Linked DNA regions of Homo sapiens. The gene in region 4 interacts genetically with the main gene of each other region. Each region holds a gene or a part of one and is shown on either strand. Other genes may lie near its edges.

Region 1 (5,263 bases), on a different chromosome or scaffold from region 4:
GTCATTTAATTTATTTTTATGTAAGTTTCTTCAACTGGAAAATGGGTAGGAATACCTGTCCTAACCCCCCACAGTGTTGTAGTGAGAACCAAATGAGATGATGCTTGTGAAAGAATTTACCAATCTGTAAAGCACTGTGTAATGGATTATAAACACTGCCTCCTCATGTGCTTACCCTGACACGTTTTATGCTTTCATCCTTCTAAGAAGCAGTTGTTTGTGCATGGGGATCACCTGGCATTCTTGCTGCAGCACTCCATCATAACCCTCAGCACAGAATGCAACATACAGTTTGCCAATCGACTTCAGTGGGATGTGAAAAGTGAAAAGTGCATTTAATTCTCACTAAGATGCCTTGGCTCAGATTCAACAAATGCCATTTACTTGAAGGCCTTTTATTTGCTTTTTCTGCCTGCCCCCCTGCCAAAATCTTCATCTATTTGTTCATTTATTCATTTACTCATTTAACATAATTGTTTTGAGTGCCTACCAGGGTCATGTTAGACACCCAAGAAGTAAAGTGAGTACTTCAAGATATTCACGTTGTACTGAGTGTAAGACACACAAAAACTTACAGTAGATAAAAGAACTATAATAGGATATATAGGATACACTGTGTACAGAGGTAGGAAAGATCATTTTTGCGAAGTGAGGGAGTGTGTGTCATGAAAGGCTTCAAAGGAGGTGCTAGTCTGTCTTCAAAACTAAGTAGCAGGAGAAGGTAGAGGCGATGCAGGTGAAAGAAACAGCTTTCACAGCAGGTGAAAGAAAAAAAGCGCTCTGGGAACCATTGTTAGCTCAGGCTGTGATTTCGTTCATTCTATTACAGTGGGTTAAATTACCTGTTGTTTGCCAAACCCTATACCAGTTTATGGGGTTACAGGGGTCAGTGTAGGCATCATGGGGGCGGACGGTGAAGTAGCAAAGGAAAACCAGCCACAGTATGAAGAGCCTCGAACAACCATTTTACTCCGTGCCAGTACACATGGGAAAGGGTTGAAAGGATATGTGAACCTGCCGCCACCAATTCCTTGATTATTCACTGGAACCCTTTCAGCCAGAGAAGATAGACACAGTACTGGGCTTTACTGAGGACTGGGTGGCGCTGTCTTTAGGGGCAGGTTAATAATATACACCTAAGTGACAAGAACACTCACACCCGAGGAAATTAGAGTAGTAAATAGACACGTGGAAAAATGTGCCATCTTATCAGTAATTAAAGAAGCAAAAATGTAAACAAAGCGGCACCTAGTAAGGTAGAAGACAAAGCAAAATATCTAAGGCTGTTAAATAATGGGGAAGCAGGCGCCTTAGAAAACAAGGGCAAATGTAAAAAACCTCTAAGGCAAGAGTTCGGTGGGGAATCTGCGGGATTCTGTGTGCTGAAGCGCAGGAGGCACGAGTCACCTTTGCAGTCTCCGGTACCAAACGGGCAAGGGGTCCCCGTAAGACTGCTGCACCCTGGCCGAAGGTAGCGGGTGAAGCGCCTCGGCGTCTCTAGGCAACCGATCAGCCCGCCCACTCCGGGGTGACTTCCTCGTAATTGGCTCTCGAATCCACCAATGGGCGCACAGGGGGAGCTTCCCGCCACCTCTGGCGCCCGCTTTCAAACAGCCGTACTTTGCAACTGCAGGTGGACTTCTCAACCAAGCTTGAGGAAGGCGGAGACTTCTGCCTCCTCGCTCTGCCCTGAGCTGGCACGGCTCCGCCCACCGGGCGAGCTTCTAGTCGGCGATTGAAGGATGCGAGTGCTCCTTAAGGGCCTCCGCCCCGTGAGTTCGGTTGTGACTAGGAAGGAGCTAGTGGACTAGAGCCAGGGTAAGGGGATCTGCTAGAAGTTGGTCTTCCGCCAGGACTAGAGTTTCCTCGCGGTAACAGCCTCCGTGGCCTCCGGTAAGTTCTGATTCACGGGTGAGCTTGGACCTGGGGTTAGAGGAGTTGCGGGGTCCTCGGGATGCTGGCTGAGGGTTCCTGGGGGGGCTGACCTGCCCCCTCCCCAAATCCCGCGGTGGTGGACTGCCCGCATGTTGCGGGCTCAGCTTTTACCTTAACGTGTCATTTAGACCTCTTCATTCCTCCAATATCCTACTTAGAAGTGACATATGGGAAGCCCGCCTCGTTTCCAGGCTGCTGGGGTCGCCCTGAGACCCTACTCTGCGGACCCCGCCTTGGTCACCCTGGCGTCACGCCTGGCTCACAGTAGGTGCTCTGTGCACGTGTGTTGACCGAGTACAAGTGACGCTGGCACCCGAAGCCAGTAGCCCCGGGCATCCTGGGCCCCGTGCGGCTTTGGTCATGTTTGTAGTGCCGTAGCTGACGCCAAACAGTTCCTCAAGGTCATTCGCTCAGCCTGTGGATGCTTATTGTGTATTAGCATTACTCGCTCCGCCCTCTGGGCAACTTGAATCAATTTGTCCAAAGTGCTGTTATTAGCACTGATCACAAGATGTTGTGATCATTTGTTTATATGTCTATTTTCTTTCCCTTCATCGTGTCCTGTTAAACTTTGTAATCTTGAACAGTGCTTGGTAAATTGTCGAATGAATGAATAAGGTGTCTCCACCAGGTGTTGCAAGTCTAAACCGGGCTATGTGCTCTGGCTATTTCCATTCTAGAAGGCGAGTTATGTCAGCAAGTAAGTAGAATTTCCCAACTCCAAGTGCAGTTCTTAGAAACCCCTTTTGTGGGGGTTTATAACCCTTCCTATATCGTAGTCATGAACTTGAGTCTGATTTAAGCCTATTATCACCTTATACCTTCATAGTGCGTGACAATGAACATGCACTCCCTAGACAGGTGAATGCACTCAACTAAAGAGAAGCTGAAGTTGAAGCCATAAGAAAAGCATAAGAAATACAGTCTGAAAGTGCAAAGGAGTGGCCAGCTCCATGGGGGAACAGGCTTGGGAGGGCATCTTGAAGGAGGGTGGCATTTTTGTTCCATAGGAGGTTGCATTATTAGAAGTGACATTTCTCATAGGCTGCACATTCACCTTTTCTCAGATATGCGGAATCCTCTTTATTCCCTAAACCTCTTCGGTAGCTGGCAGACTCCTATTCATCAGTAATAATGTCATAATAGTAATAAAACTACAATGTATTGATTGGTACATAGTGCTAATTACTTTACATGTAGTATCTTGTGAATCCTCAGAATCAATCTTTGAAGTAGGTATTATTTTTACCCCCATTTCTTTAACGTAGAAGCAGAAACAGTTTGCTCAAGATTGCACTGCTGATAAATAGAAGAGCCAGAATTGAGCCCAGGTTGTCTGAATGAGTGCCCTCATTCTTAGAACCACTTATAGCCATATTGTGTCCTTTAAGATTTATTTCTAATCTAAAAGCTCTTTTTTTTCTGTAAAACTTCTCTAAACTATCCTTTCTTCTTAGGAAAAGTAATTTGTGCTTTGTACTTTCATCTACTACGGAATTTATTACAATATGTTATTGTAACTGTTTATATCAGTGGCTCTATCTAAGAGAGGGTGAGCAGAGACAGTGAGCTCCTCATGGCTGGTACCATGTCTTAGGTGCATCTAGGATATGATCTGGAACACAGTGGGTATTCAATAAAATTTTATTGAAGTAATGAATTCGTATAAGGTAACATGCCTATATCATATTCAGTCAACAAATATTTGTTATGTACCCACCATGTGCAAGCAGGCAGATACATTTTAATTCTGCCTTCAGGGTGCTTATAGTTTATTAGATGAAGCAAAAACAATGCTACTTTTGCTTTGTAATCTTTTGTCCAAATACCCATTGCTTTTGTTGCAAGGAGGGCAGAGAAAACAACCGGGGACAACAAAAGGAATGCTGGGTCAGAGCATCCATCTGAGTGTAACAACAAGACATACTTTTTATAGTCTTGTTAAGGGTTCAGAAAAAGTTATCTAGGAAGAAAGTCTACCAGACTGCTATTGAAGAAGAAAACCAAAACATACTGTATACTTAATCTGCATCTTGATTTCTCAAGTGGTCAGCCTTGAGTCAATAGATATAGAAAATTTTCAGTATTTTTACTAGTGGCATAGTATTGACAAATTAATTCAAAATAATTTTACTAGTGTAAATGTTAATTTTCAATATATTAATATTGATAGTTTTCAAGATGGTTTAGCAGTTGATATTTTCACCAGCAACTCATGAGCCATACAAAATACAAAATAGTCACCACTGGGTGATAACAAGTTTTTTTTTTGTTTGTTTGTTTTTTCAATCTAGTGGTTGAAAATGGCATATTGTTTAAATGACACTTCTTTGAAACATCACGAGCTTAAGCATCTTTTCAAACTAATTGATTTACACTTTTTAAAATAAATTGTCATGTCAGTCGCCCAATTTTATATTGGATTGTCTTTTTCTCATTTCTTTGTAATAATTTTATATTGGGACTTTGTCAGGTGCTTTGCAAATTTTTTTTATTCTTATTTTTCTTGACTTTGTTATTGATGTATTTTTTCATATATAATATTTGACTCGTTAATGATGTCTTTTGCCTTAAACAAAATTTTATTTTTTGTGGTTAGGTTTCCATCACATTTTTCTTTATGGCTTTTGGATTTACTATCTTGCTATTTTTTTTTTTTAAAGAAGTCTCTTTTGTTGTTCTGAATATTATACTAAAGTCTCTGGTAGCAGTGATAATGAGTGGTGATTAATAAGTTAAGGTATTAGCTTTTATTTTAAGTCTCATTTAAAATATGTATTACCTTTTTACTATATATATTTTTAACCACATTAAGTTGATCAGGTTTCCCTTTATGTCTGAAATCATTTCTTAAAGTCTTTTATAGTTTATAGTTCTGATAAGGAAAACTTATACCTTCTTCAGTGGGGGAGATTTTGGTCTTTTCAGGTATTTTTAGATGTCTTCTTTAATGACATGTTTTGAATTTAAAATAACATTAAAGATATATACTTTGATATTTTACATTCTCTTTAAAAACAAAACCCTAAGTATTCTCTATCTGAGAAAAAGTAGCTGTCTATTTAAAATATTAGTAGCTACATTTTTAGCAATAGGCTCTTATAAATCTTAATGTTCTTTTTCAATAATCAACATCAGTTGATGGCAGGTTAATAAAGGATGGGAACAAACCTCTCTTCTCTAACTTAATGAAGGAGAAAGTAACCCAAATTCCATATTTCGTCTTGTATTTATATTTGAATGAAAGAAAGGTAGAAGACACAGAATTCAGAAACAGAAAGGATTTTTTCTGCCTGGAGGATTCAGGAATTTCTTTAAGGTCCAGCTT
Region 2 (4,496 bases), on a different chromosome or scaffold from region 4:
GGAGTGGCTGTAAATGGAGATGAAGCTTCACTTGCTCGCCTGCCTCATCTTTTGCTGTGTGATCTGGTTCCTAACAGGCCATGGACTGGTTACCATCCGTGGCCTGGGGTTTGTTGACCCCTGGCTTAGAGATCTGTGGGAGATCATGTCAGTATAGCGTGGTGTGTGTTAGGAATTCAACTATAGGTGCTGTAAAAGCCCAAAGAAGGAACATCTGATTTACTGAGGGAATGCTTCCCAAATGATACAATGACACGTAAGCTGAGTCTTTTTTTTTTTTTCTGAGACAGAGTCTCGCACTGTTGCCCGGACTGAAGTGCAGTGATGCCGTCTTGGCTCGCTGCAACCTCTGCCTCCCAGGTTCAAGCGATTCTCCTGCCTTAGCCTCCAGAGTAGCTGGGATTACAGGTGCACACCACCACTCCTGGCTATAAGCTGAGTCTTAAAGGAAAAGTCACCCAGGTGAAGGTAATAGGTGCAGTTCCAGGGAAACAGAGTAATCCAAATGGAGAAGTGAAACAGCTTGGTGTTGGCTGTAGCTGTAGTGGTGGAATTACAGGCACTTATTTGACAGATGGGGGAGAGCACTTTAGGCAAGAGGATTCTCTCCACCACCCATGGTGAACTTTTTATTTTATTTATTTTATTGTTTTAAGGAGACAGGGTTGGGGCTGGGCGCCGTGGTCATGCCTGTAATCCCAACACTTTGAGAGGCCAAGGCGGGCGGATCACCTGAGGTCAGGAGTTCGGGACCAGCCTGGCCAACGTGGTGAAACCCTGTCCCTACTAAAAATACAAAAAATTAGCTGGGCATGGTGGCAGGAGCCTGTAAACCCAGCTAATTGGGAGGCTGAAGCAGGGAATCGCTTGAACCCAGGAGGCGGAGGTTGCAGTAAGCCGAGATCGCGCCATTGCCCTCCAGCCTGGACAACAGCGAGACTCCATCTCAAAAAAAAAAAAAAAAAAAAAAAGAGGGTTGGGGGCGGGTGCGAAGTGGCTCACTCCTGTAATCCCAGCATTTTGGGAGGCTGAGGCAGGCAGATTACTTGAGCCCAGGAGTTCCAGACCAGCCTGGGCAACATGGAGAAACCTCGTCTCTACAAAAAACACAATTAACTGGGCATGGTGATGCTGTGATCACACCACTACACTCCAGCCTGGGCAACAGAATGAGACCCTGTCTCAAAAAAAAAAAAAAAAAAAAAAAAAATACAAAGTTTCACTCTGTTGCCCAGGCTGGAGTGCAGCGGGTTTGTCATAGCCTGTAGGTTTGAACTCCTGGTCTTAAAGTGATCCTCTCGCCTTAGCCTCCTGAGTAGGAATAGCTAGGGACACATGCCATTATGCCCAGCTTCCATGGTGAGGATATTGGTGACAGAGTCTTATGAGGAGTGGCTTGAGGAACTGGGGTTATTTAGTCTATATGTGAACTAAGTCAAGAGTAGGACAGCAATCTTTGGTATTTGAAAGGCTGTCATGTGGAAGAGATCCTTGGGACTTTAGAGCAGTGGAACACAAACATAGGTTGTCACTAAGAGACCTTTGTAGAGGTCTCAGCCTTTCCAGCCACATTCCTTATCCTTCCTGGGAATCTGAATCTTCAGGTCTAGGGAATCTGCATTTTTAACAAGTCTCAGCTTAACAAGGTAAGTTGGACACCTGATCTCTGCACTACACTTTGAGAAACACTGAGGAAGAAACAAAACCAGTGCTATGTGGAAGATACAGAGAGGAGAGGTTCTCCTTTAAGATGAAGGTTGTACCATCAGTGGAGGGGGATAACCTCTTAGCTAGAGGGGAGTTGTGCAAGGCCTAAGAAATTGGGATGGAGATTCAATAGAGTCTCTCTTAACCTGGAGACTGTCTGATCCTTTAAAATCTAACCACTGGGCAGCTATTCTCTGCTGTAAGTTTGTTCCTAATACGAGGTCTCATGGGCTTTGTTTCTCTTCCAGGAGCAGGAACTCAAAGCAGCCGCTGATGGCGTACTATCTGAAGTGAGGAAAAAACAAGCAGATACCAAAAGAATGGTGGACATTCTACGGGCTTTGGAGAAATTGAGGAAACTGAGGAAAGAGGCTGCAGCGAGGAAAGGTAACTGTGGCTTTGCATTTCTTTCCTTGTTCCCTTCCCCTTCTTTACTCTAGCTCCTCCCACCCCAAATATTATTGAGGGAAAAATACTTGAAACTTCATGATTTTCACCTTGTCGGGTAACTGGGCTTGTCAGCAAGTAGGTCAGAACTTCTGAAGCAGGAAGCCTCAGAAGATGTTTAGCCTGTGGTAGCCCAGATTGAAAAGAGAGGCAAGTGTGGGAACCCACTGCACTGTCTTCCCCTTGACTTATCATTCCTACCCTGGGCATTTCTGGCCACACTCTTCTGAGTGGGCTTGTCATGGCTAGTCACCTTTGCCTTGTGCCAGAGTGAAAGCTTTTCACCCTTACTTGTTGCTCCAGAAAGTGTTGAAAACTTGGCATGCTTCTTCAGATACATTTCAAACCTGAATTATTTCTATTTGAAGAGGTATGAATGGTTGGACAGGGCAGGGATTGCAGACTGTGTGGATTTCCCCACCTTCCCTTCATGTCACTGGTCTCTTCTTGCCTCTGGAGGAAGCACCAGACACTATAGCCAGGCAGTTCAAGCTTCTCCACCGAAGTTTGTTTCAACCATGCTGGCTTTCTAGAAGTTACCCAATTGTGCTTTCCATTTGCCTGTCTGGATCTTAGCTGTTGTCATTCTGTTCATCTGGAGGGCCCTCAGTCCCATCTTTGCCATTTTAAGATCTCACTATTCAAAACCAAATACACATGCAGCATCCTTCATCCTTCCCTGATCTGGGCTGAGGTAACCTCCTGTTGCTTCTCACTTGCACCTGCTTTGGACCACATGCTGATTTATTTAGTAGATTGTAGGCCTTTGGTATTCACCAGAGATATTTGAGAGTGTACAAATTAGCAAATGCCACTCTAACAAATGATTTCCCATGTGTTGTTTAAAATGTAAATGAAAACTGGGATTCTTTTAGACCCTTAAGAAAGTTGTGTTGGAATATGACCATTTTGTATTCACCCAGGCTCGTTTGCTAGCTAAGTGATTGGCTTTTGCATACTAGCCTTCAGAGCGGCTAATTCACATCCAGACCTCAGAAACAGATGCCTCCATTGTGGTACTCTCAGGGCATTTGTAAATCAGAGGGAAGTTAGCATCTGCTTTGTCTACCCATCTCTTTTTCACTAGAAGGCAAAACCTGAGAGCTATTTAATATTCCCACACCTCACATCCTCTATGAGGTGAGTGCTCAGTAAACTTCTGCCAAGTGAATTTACCAGCATTTCCCAATATTAATCTTCCTCACTTTGGTCCAAAAGGAGGAGGAAATTTTAGGAAAATCATTATCTATAGAAATAAACAGACTTTGTGGCATTAAGTGACTTGAATGTAAAATGATTTGGTAAGTAGCAGCTGGTTGCATGCATATTTAAAATGAGCAGCTAACTTCTCTCTTCAAGATGTGTGCACCTCCAACTAAGTGCTGAATGATGAGGCTGGATGTTTAAGCAGGACCACGTTGCAAATTGTCTTATGGGCTATGCTAGAGTTCTCACTTATACTTAAAGCTTTGGGGAACCGCTGAAAGTTTTTTTTTTTTTTTTTTTTTGAGACGGAGTCTCGCTCTGTCGCCCAGGCCGGACTGCGGACTGCAGTGGCGCAATCTCGGCTCACTGCAAGCTCCGCTTCCCGGGTTCACGCCATTCTCCTGCCTCAGCCTCCCGAGTAGCTGGGACTACAGGCGCCCACCACCGCGCCCGGCTAATTTTTTGTATTTTTAGTAGAGACGGGGTTTCACCTTGTTAGCCAGGATGGTCTCGATCTCCTGACCTCATGATCCACCTGCCTCGGCCTCCCAAAGTGCTGGGATTACAGGCGTGAGCCACCACGCCTGGCCCCGCTGAAAGTTTTTAAGTGAAATGATGGCAAAGATCAGTGCCAGTAGAGCAGAGAAAGTTTTGGAGCATCCAGGAGAGAGAGAGAAGGGCAGAGAGATGGGTAAGGCTATTGGGCACGGGTAGTATGGAAGCATAAGCTGAGTGACGTCAGTGTGTAGGAGAATTGAGAGGTAATGAGTAATTCAAGTGATAGTGAATAATTGAGTAATTCAGAATTATTAGTGAATAATTCTCAAGTCAAAGAATTGAGAGATAATGAATAAAGGTATATGTGTATATACCCATGTACATATAAATAAATAATTTAAGGAACTCAGAGTACAGGAACTAAAGGGAAAAACAATGAAATGTCTTCCAGATTCTAGCCTCATCTACTGAATAAGTGAAGATAGCTTTTTTTTTTTGCTTTTTTTTTTTTTAAAAGACAGGGTCTTGCACTGTCGCCCAAGCCGAAGTGCAGTGGTGCAATCATAATTCACTGCAGCCTTATACTCCCAGGCAGGAGCGATCCTCCCACCTCAGCCTCCTGAGTAGTAGAGACTACA
Region 3 (5,092 bases), on a different chromosome or scaffold from region 4:
CATCAGGCAAGGCATTCCTGACAGGCAGAGAGAAACTGCCTGCTCATCGGGATGCCACTCTCCTACTCTACTCTCTATTGTGGACAAAAGGTAGCCACAGGGTCCTCCCAATTCTGTGGCAATGAGTATGGAGAGGGCATAACTGGATAGCAGAATAAAAATCCAGTGCACATTGCTGCCTTACAGCCAATAACAGTTGCTCGCCAGTGGTATGAAGCTTCTGTGTGCCTAGGACTGAGCTACTGGGTATAGCGTGTGTGGGAAGGGGAGTCACCAAGGGGAGTCATCCCCAGAAGGGGAAGGTAAGATACTCTTCCAGGATCAGGCTCACCTTTCCCATCCTTGGAGGGGGTCTGGGGATGGAAGGTTTTTACCACTTTGGGCATGGTACACACTCTATCAGCAGAAAAGGGAATTCATCGGAGATTATTTGGGTAGACTGATGGCCTTAAAGGAAACTGGGTATTATCTTGTTCTGTCAGGGGAGGAGTTTACACCTTCACTAACAGTTCTGAGCAGATGCAACAGCAGGACAGACCAGAAGTGTGACCTAACTCAGGCTGCCTCAGAGAGATTGCTGTTGGACTGCCTCTATTGATGGGACTCTTACTGAGGGGGTCCAGGCATTCAGGGGGTTGAGCGTCCCAGAAAGTTCCCCACCGACGCTTTAAAAATGTATTCCCTGCAGCCTTACGTTCTTGCAGTTCCAATATAGCATTGGTGTTTAAAGCCAAACTACATTATAATTGATTCGCCATCATCCAGCTTTATATTTAACACTTTAATCTGGTAACAAAGGAAAGGCTCGTTAAAGGACGGCATTTATAAAAATTTTTCAAGCACCTCTGCTTAACTCGAAGGGAAAATAAAAGGCACTGTTTATTTGGTAGGCCAAGGAGAACAACGCCACGAAGAGGTTCTCCACTGATCAATTCCTACCTTTGTCAATTATACCACATTAATTAGTAACTTTTTTTGGAGACATGGACCCTCTCAAACTCCCCAGTATGCTTTGAAACTTTGATCCAGAAATGTACAAACAAAACTCTAAGTGTTCTGGAATTAATTTCAGAAGCTTCATAGATCCTCGTAAGTACTCACCAAAAGAAAAATTCCCCATTTCTGGTACTCCAATCTCATGTCCTTAGAATTCTCCTAAGACTTGTTCCCTTGAACAACTTTCCCTAATTGCAAATCAAACCTAGATCCGGCTGGGACGCCAAGCTTGAGCTGTGGTAACGCTCAGAAGGCCTCTTTTCATCAGTAAAATAGATGCCTTAACGGAAGTGGCGGGCAATCTACGCATGGAAAGGCGCTTGGCTTCCCTCTTTTTTGGGTTTCTCTAGGTTGTCTGGATGGGAAAAAAATACACGCTTCGTCCTGCGGAGTTCGGTACGAGGGCAATTGCACATGCGCAAAGGCGAACCAGTAGCGTCCGGGCGCGTCCGTGGAGCGGGACGGGGCGGGGCGGGGCGGTGCCGAGTGGGGCGAGAGAAGGCCCGCTCCTCCCATTCGTCGCGTCCTTAACTCTTTGCTATCCTTCCGCTGAGCTTCCTCTTCTTTCCCTCTGACCTCGGAAAGGGGGCGGGGCTTTCGGGGGCGGAAGTTGCGGTGCATTGTGGGTTCTCCTGGAGCTGTGGAGTTGATCCTGAATGAAAGTGGCGCGCCGCCCCTGACGTTACCCGGATCGGAGAGGTTGGAATTCAGATTACGGCTGCGATTCGGGTGTCTCGGACCCCGGTGTGCACCGGACCACGGGGAGGCGGCTCCAAAGGCGCGGTGAACGTTGGTGAGGGAGGGCAGCTCTGCGCAGCCCCAAGACATGGCTCACAACAAGATCCCGCCGCGGTGGCTGAACTGTCCCCGGCGCGGCCAGCCGGTGGCAGGTAACCTGGACTGGGGGGCGTTCGAATCCCCACACTCCAACGTGCCCGGGGGTGGGCCGACTGAGGAGCTCAGCTTTTGGTGGTTCTGTGCCCATTAGTGGTATTTCAGGAGCGGGATATGCTCCGTCGGATTACGCTTCGTGGATGAATGGGAACATGAACGGGAGGGGATGGTCGGCGGATGGGGGGCACTTGTTACTATTCCTGCAAGGCTAACTGTGCGAATGTGAAGGTAGACAGGAGGTTGGTGGCAGGAGGTGAGGATCCAGGAATACAGTGGGCGTACTTTGAGTCTTAGTAGTTTGCGAACCTGTTAGGGTTCAACCTTCCCCTCGAAAGAAGGGATGAATATCAGTATTGAGATGGAGGAGGGTTAAGGAGGGAAGGGGCGGTTCCCAGCGGTGAAATGGGGTCACATTGAGACTGGGAATCTGGAGGGTGTTTTTGTTAGTTTTTTATTTTTATTTTCTTGTGAGACAGGGTCTCTTGCTCGGGCTGGGGATCCTCCCACCTCAGCCTCCCAAGTAGCTGGGACTACATGCTCCTGCCACCGCACCCGGCTAATTTTTTTATTTATTAAAGTATATATATATTTATAATGTATATATTTGAGACATAGTCTCTCTCTGTCGTCCAGGCTGGAGTGCAGTGGCGTGATCTCGGCTCACTGCCTCAGCCTCCCAAGTAGCTGGGATTACAGGCGCGTGCCACCACACCCGGCTAATTTTTGTTTTTAGTAGAGACAGGGTTTCATCGTGTTGACCAGGCTGGTCTCCAACGCCTGGCCTCAAGTGATCCGCCCGCCTCGGCCTCCCAAAGTGCTGGGATTACAGCCGTGAGCCACTGTGCCTGGCCATAATTTTTTTGTTTATTTTTTGTGGAGACAGGGTTTCACTGTGTTGCCCAGGCTGGTCTTGAACTCGTGGACTCAAGCGATGCTCCCACTTCGGCCTCCCAAAGTGTTGGGATTATAGGCGAGAGCCACCCCGCTTGGCCGGGTTTTTGTTTTTTTTAATTATTTTTCTTGTAGTTTTTTTCATCTTTATTGAGCTTGAATACAATAAGCTTTAAAGCGTACAGTTTGATAAATTTTGACTGTATATACACAAATATATCTCTTTCCTAGGAAACAACCATGAAACCCCTCAAAGTTTCCTCTTGCCCCTTTTTAAATCCCTCCTTCGCCTGGCAGCCACTGATCTGCTTTCTGTAATTATAGATTGGTTTGCATTTTCTAGAAATTTTTAAATAAATGGAAACATATAGTGAGTACTCTTCTTGGGGTGGAAGGAAGTGTGTGTGGCTTTTTTCACTCAGCATAATTAATTTGATACTCATCCAGATTATGCATGTATCAATAGTTTATTCCTTTTTTATTGCAGAGTAGTAGTTTATTGTTCTGGGTATACCACAATTTGTTTACCTGTTCATCTATTGATGGTCATTTGGGTTATTTCCAGTTTTTAGCTATTACAAATAAACCTGCTGTGAACATTCATGTACAATTCTTTGTGTGGACATATACTTTCATTTCTCTTGTGTAAGTCTCTAGGAGAGGAATGGCTGCATCATATGGTAGGTGTATGTTTTAAGAATTTTAAGAAACTGCCAACCTCTTTTCCAAAGTGGTAACACTTGATAGTCCCACCATCAATGTATTATACAGAAGAAATTCAAAGGACTTAAAAACTAGCAAAAAATTTGGACACTTCACAAAATAAGTTATATGAATAGCCAAAAAGCTATGATGGCGTGGTGGTATGTGCCTGTAATCCCAGCTACTCGGGAGGCCGAGGCAGGGGAATCACTTGAACCCAGGAGACGGAGGTTGCAGTGAGCTGAGATTGCACCACTGCACTCCAGCATGGGTGACAGAGTGAGACTCCATCTCAAAAAAAAAAAAAAGTAATTTGTACTTATCGTGTAATTTATTAGTAAGGGTTCTCTAGAGGGACAGAACTAATAGGAAATATATGTACATATATATATATACACACACACACATACATACACACACACACATACAGACGTAAAGGGGAGTTTATTAACTGTTAACTCACACGATCACAAGGTCCCACAATAGGTTGTCAGCAAACTGAGGAGCAAGGAGAGTCAGTCTGAGTCCCAAAATGGAAGAACTTGGAATCCAGTGTTTGAGGGCAGGAAGCGTCCACCACAGGACAAAGATGTAGGCTGGGAGGCTAAGCCGGTCAAGTCTTTTCACATTTTTCTGCCTGCTTTATATTCTAGCCATGCTGGCAGCTGATTAGATGGTGCCCACCCAGATTAAGGGTGGGTTTGCTTTTCCCAGCCCACTGATTCAAATGTTAATCTCCTTTGCAACACCCTCTACACCCAGGATCAATATTTTGCATCCTTCAATCCAATCGAGTTGACACTCAGTATTAACCATCACAGTAATTTCTTTGATATTTTGCATATTGAGGAAAATGTTATGGCTGCTCAAACTTATATGTTGTAAATGTTAGGATTCACTTTACTAGTACTAGAAGTTCATAATTTTCCTGAATCAGAAAGAAAATGGTACTAACTACATATAATTTGTTTCTCTGTGAAGTCACTTTCTCTGATGAAACCAGACTTGCAATGAGAGAGAGCTCTTGGAGACAGGGCCAAGCTTTATTTTCTGAAGAACTGTTTTTTCCTCCTTCTGAGTTAATAGATTTCAGGTGAATACTTGGAAGAAAACAAACTTATAATTTCTTTTCCTTTTTCCTTTTTTTCTTTTCTTTTCTTTTCTTTTTTGTATTTTTAGTAGAGATGGGGTTTCACCATGTTGGCCAGGCTGGTCTCCAACTGCTGACCTCGGGTGATCCGCCTGCCTTGGCCTCCCAAAGTGTTGGCATTACAGGTGTGAGCTACCGCACCCAGCCCTCCCTAGTTTCTTAAAGATATATCATTCAACATAAAATTATTTCATATCTGCTATGTAAAGAGCTTACTAGGAACTGTGGGAATGTAAATATGAGACACAGCCAGGTGCATTGGCACATACTTGTGGTCCCAGGTACTCAGGATAGTGTGATGGTGATAGTGATGGTGATTTTGAAGTCATTTTATTTAGCAAATATTTAAATGTCTACTTTGTGCTAGTCCTGGGTGCTAGGGAGATGGCTAAGATATATTACCCTTAAAAAGCAGAGTCTCATGGGAGTAGCAAACCATCCATTTTAAGCACAGTTCTG
Region 4 (4,496 bases):
AAGACCTACTGCCCTTTTATTAACTTCATTTAGTGGGCACTGAAAAAATGAGTTTACAAATTTCCAGAGAAAGCAGCATTACACAAATCACTTTATAAGGAAACCCCATCACGGCGCGTCCCCTGGATCAACCTGTCTAGAGGAAACCTACAAATAAGAACAGTGAGACCAGAAAACTTCTAAAAAGCATTTTACAAATGTGATAGCTGCTTCTATCCAAAATCATTTCTCTATCCAACTTGAGCACCAATTTCCAAATACTCAATGGATCACTAGATCACAATGATCAACCCCATCACGGTCTACGTCGGCTCCCATTTCCCTTCTATCTCCCCCAAAACACAAACTTACAGAGATCTGCACAAAAGCAGAAGCTCAATGCCTGCTAACTGTCAGTCATGATTTCATCTTAAAGCCATAAAAGATCATCTGCATATCTTAAAGCCATGATGCCATCATTTCTTTATGTCAAAACAAAAACATTAATTTTTCTGAAACATCCTAAGATTCTTTAATACACCGTAATGGGAATACCCAACACAGCCACCCTGAGGTGTAAATGAAATCAGGACTTAGAACATAGTTGCCAAACTGTTTCCTGGTTCCTCTCCTCCAATCTCTCCTCCACTAAGTCCATATTTAGGGGTTTCAAACTGCTTTTGTATATGGAATCATTTCAAGTAAAATGAAACAATATGTAGAAGCCTGATATATATAACACTGTAATGCTGATCTGCTCCTATTGAAACGTGGGTCAAGGAAGACCCAAAACTCTGCCATTCATTCACTCAACAAACATTTTTTAGTTCCTCCTGGGTACCAGGCTCTGTCCTGGGCTCCAAGGATATAGTGGTGACCAAGATATCAAGGGTCCCACTGCTAAACACCCCACAGAGCACAATTTCAAAACTACCGCTTATTGTTAATACTTTTAAAACACTATCTTAATAACATAAATCTCTTACCCAAACCTCTTTGATATAGTTTGAACCAAATACACAGCCTGCCATGTTCAGTTCTCTGGAATATAGGCCCAATCTACCCTTCCCATTTTATCTACTCGAGGTCAAACTTCTACTTCCTTCACACTGTTCTCCTCATTGTACTACACTATTACTGCTTATTCCAACCTATGTGCCTCTGCATGTATGGCCACCCCACTTTAAAAATCTGCTCTTCTCCTGGAAGAGCATTCCTCCAGACTCCCAAAAGCCTATCTTCACATGCCAATTTTTTCTAGAAAGTCTCCACGACTATTCTAACCCATATTGACCTTTTCTTCTCTACTCCAACAATACCATTTGTCTGTATTACTCTTTTTGGTCCCAAATCATATGCTGTCTTTATAAGCATCTGTGTTTCATCTGTAAAAGTCACCTCCTCAACCAAACTTATACCCTTTTTGTATTGCCCCAAAAGTTCATGATCCATAGAAACAGAAATAATTTTGAAATACATCATCTGCTACTTAATATCATTTTTTCAATACAGAGGTCTCTGGTAAATCTGCTCAAATTCTGAAATAAGTTTCAAAGTTTTTCAAGTACATATAATATTAATGGTATACACAGTATTATTATACTTCAGAAGAACAATGTATGCATTCTTCCAAAGAAATACTACTGTCAAAGAACTACAAGTGTTAAATGTTTTAAAATGACACAAAAGATATAACATCACCTATTTAATGTGGATAGTATGCACACAGAAAGTACTCAAATACTTTTTGAATGAAAGAATACATTAAGATATCTCAAAAATGAAGACAACCTGTGTTTTTCTATAGATAATACCCAATAGGTGTAATGAATTTAAAATATTGCCAATATTTTCAGGGCAGGCACAGTGGCTCACGCCTGTAATCCCAAAATCTTGGGAGGCCGAGGCAGGTGGATCACCTGAGGTCAGGAGTTCGAGACCAGCCTGGCCAACATAGTGAAACCTCATCTCTACTAAAAATACAAAAATTAGCTGGGTGTGGTGATGCATGCCTGTAGTCCCAGCTACTCGGGAGGCTGAGGCACAAGAATTGCTTCAACCCTGGAGGCAGAGGTTGCAGTGAGCTGAGATCGCACCACTACACTCTAGCCTGGGTGCAGAGTGAGACTCCGTCTCAAAATAAATAAATAAGTAAGTAAATATATATACACACAGCAAATATTTCCTATTAGTAGTATTTAGGTAAATACAAATCTTGAAATTGTAACATTAGAAGCCCTCCGCTCCCACCTTCATCACTCTCAGCCAATAAGATTGATGTACAAGGTCAGTTGATCACTTTCCCTAAAGTGATTCACTTTAGATGCCATGAATCACTAAGCAGAGACATTTTATTAGTCCCTGTCCACTTGTTAAGGCCTATTCACAGTATCATTAGTCATCACTATAAGTTTGAAAGGGAAGTGAACTTTCTAAATCTGTGGTCATGCAACACCAGGTATTAGCTTTACACCAATGACAGGCATTTGAAAGAGTTACCATATAATGAGAACATATGCTATCAAAAAAGCACTTCCTTTAAAATGCCTATACTTATTTCAGGGTACTGAAAGAACCATTGCTGAACCAAAATAGTAGCCAATAAGTAACTAGTTTTTCAAAACTCTAACAGAAGTCTATGGAATGAAATGTCTAGGCCTTTTCCAAGAACACAGTAAGATAAATCAGTTTCCCATATTTTATGGTTAAGAATCAATAGTTTATTAAACAACTGATTATTATTAACTTGTTTATTAAATAAACAGCTTCCTAGGCCTCTCCACTGGGGTTTCAAGTCCAGTGGGTCTGTGCCGAGGCCTGGGAATCTATATTTTAAATAACAACCTCAAGATGATTCTTAAGAAGCAGCTTGGCAAATACAGGGATAAAATGTCTGACACATCATACTCTTCCTGAGGGAACTCATCTCTTTTGATTATGGAATTAGGCATCAAAATACTTAGTGAATGAAAAATTTTAAAAATCATAATGTAAATCCAAATTTATTAGCCTTACTTAAGTCATCAACACAGAAGTAGATGAAAAGACAGTACAGGTAAGGCAGAGATTTTTCAGCAGAAATGTGCAAAAGAACTCTGGATTAAAGGGTCAGACAATGTGGCTTATGCCCGTAATCCTAACACTTTGGGAGGCTGAGGCAGTAGGACTGCTTGAAGCCAGGAGTTCAAGACCAGCATAGGCATCTAAGCGAGACCTCTGTCTCTACAAAAAATTTTAAAATTAGCTAAGTGTGCTCGTACGTGCCTCTAGTCCCAGCTACTCAGGAGGCTGGGGCAGGAAGATGACTTGAGACCAGGAGTTCAAAGCTGCAGTGAGCTGTGATCACACCACTGCACTCCAGCCTGAGTGACAGAGCAAGTCCTCATCTCCAAAAATAAAAAAAGATAAAATAAAGGGTCATTTATGTAGGATTGGTTAAGCATGTTTTTGCTTAATGGCAACAGTGGACCCTGCTCCTTCATTTGGAGCAACAGGATTAAGCTCTTTATCCTATCTCTCTTTACTATAATTATTGAAAAGGATTTAAAGACAGTTATTGAAAAAGGCTTAAAGACAAATCATATTTCATTTGTATCTGAAGTCCATTAGAAAGTCTATCAGCTACGAATCTCACATCCCTGTGAAACTGCATAAAATTAATTAAATTTGATTTGATATTCAGAGTCACAGAGCAGGAAGAATCACCAAGAGGTTTTAAGCAAATGGTCTTGCTCCTCATCCCTTCCAATGGTTCCAAGACCTCTCCAACATTATTTATTCATAATGCTCCCAGAAGAAAATGCTTATGATTAACTACCATGGCCCTGCATCTTGGGTTGCCATTTTGATTTCCCTTTGCATCTTTGCATGTATCAAAATAAAATTATACAAGATTCAGCTTTAAAATAAAGCATTTCAACTGAAAATCAACTAATTTGAATTTCAGGAGGTGTGGTGGCCAACATCAATGCCAGGTGAGTTGAACTGAGATTTTAACCTAATCAGCACAGAGGCTATGTGAAAAAGTAGAATTTAGATAATTTTTTTTTTACTCTAATTGTTGAAAAATTATAAAATACAACTAATTCCCCCTGTATTGATTCAGCCCTTTCTCCTCCATCTGGAGAGTAGATGTTCCCCATATCTTGAATTTAAAATAGCTTTAAGTAAAATAATCTTTATATGTTGGTATGGCAGATTGAGAAAACTTTGCTTCAACATCAACATCTTTGTTTGAATATAAAACTGCTGAGGTTAGGAGTAATTGCTGTAGTGAGAAAAAAATAATAACTCCAACCACTGCTCCACTTTCCCATGGTGTTGGGAGGAGGCAAGAGAGCTTTGTAATAAACATTAATCTCCTTCTCAGAAAATAACTGTGTGACGGTCTGCAGCAAAAAGATTCCTTACATTTGTACAGCACATCATGCTTCCCAAAGCATTTTAACTTATATTAATTTAATTTGATGTGGAACAAGCATGTAAAAGCAGAGCTAATGCTTCAGGATGTAGTAACA

What was found.
Region 1: changes in MRPL22 (region 4) and CEP152 together harm fitness more than expected from each alone (negative genetic interaction), as found in Homo sapiens cells (one large-scale study listed by BioGRID).
Region 2: changes in MRPL22 (region 4) and PDCD7 together harm fitness more than expected from each alone (negative genetic interaction), as found in Homo sapiens cells (one large-scale study listed by BioGRID).
Region 3: changes in MRPL22 (region 4) and RNGTT together harm fitness more than expected from each alone (negative genetic interaction), as found in Homo sapiens cells (one large-scale study listed by BioGRID).

What each region holds. Positions count from the first base shown.
Region 1 is NC_000015.10:48,807,591-48,812,853, reverse strand, and holds the start of CEP152 (centrosomal protein of 152 kDa), read left to right. Parts: upstream 1-1,784; 5' UTR 1,785-1,893; exon of another isoform or gene 1,894-1,923; intron 1,924-2,046; exon of another isoform or gene 2,047-2,156; intron 2,157-2,259; exon of another isoform or gene 2,260-2,635; intron 2,636-5,263. UniProt on the Homo sapiens protein: Necessary for centrosome duplication; the function also seems to involve CEP63, CDK5RAP2 and WDR62 through a stepwise assembled complex at the centrosome that recruits CDK2 required for centriole duplication.
Region 2 is NC_000015.10:65,126,630-65,131,125, reverse strand, and holds part of PDCD7 (programmed cell death protein 7), read left to right. Parts: intron 1-1,955; coding exon 1,956-2,094; intron 2,095-4,496. UniProt on the Homo sapiens protein: Promotes apoptosis when overexpressed.
Region 3 is NC_000006.12:88,960,140-88,965,231, reverse strand, and holds the start of RNGTT (mRNA-capping enzyme), read left to right. Parts: upstream 1-1,613; 5' UTR 1,614-1,822; coding exon 1,823-1,886; intron 1,887-5,092.
Region 4 is NC_000005.10:154,960,577-154,965,072, reverse strand, and holds part of MRPL22 (large ribosomal subunit protein uL22m), read right to left. Parts: intron 1-4,496.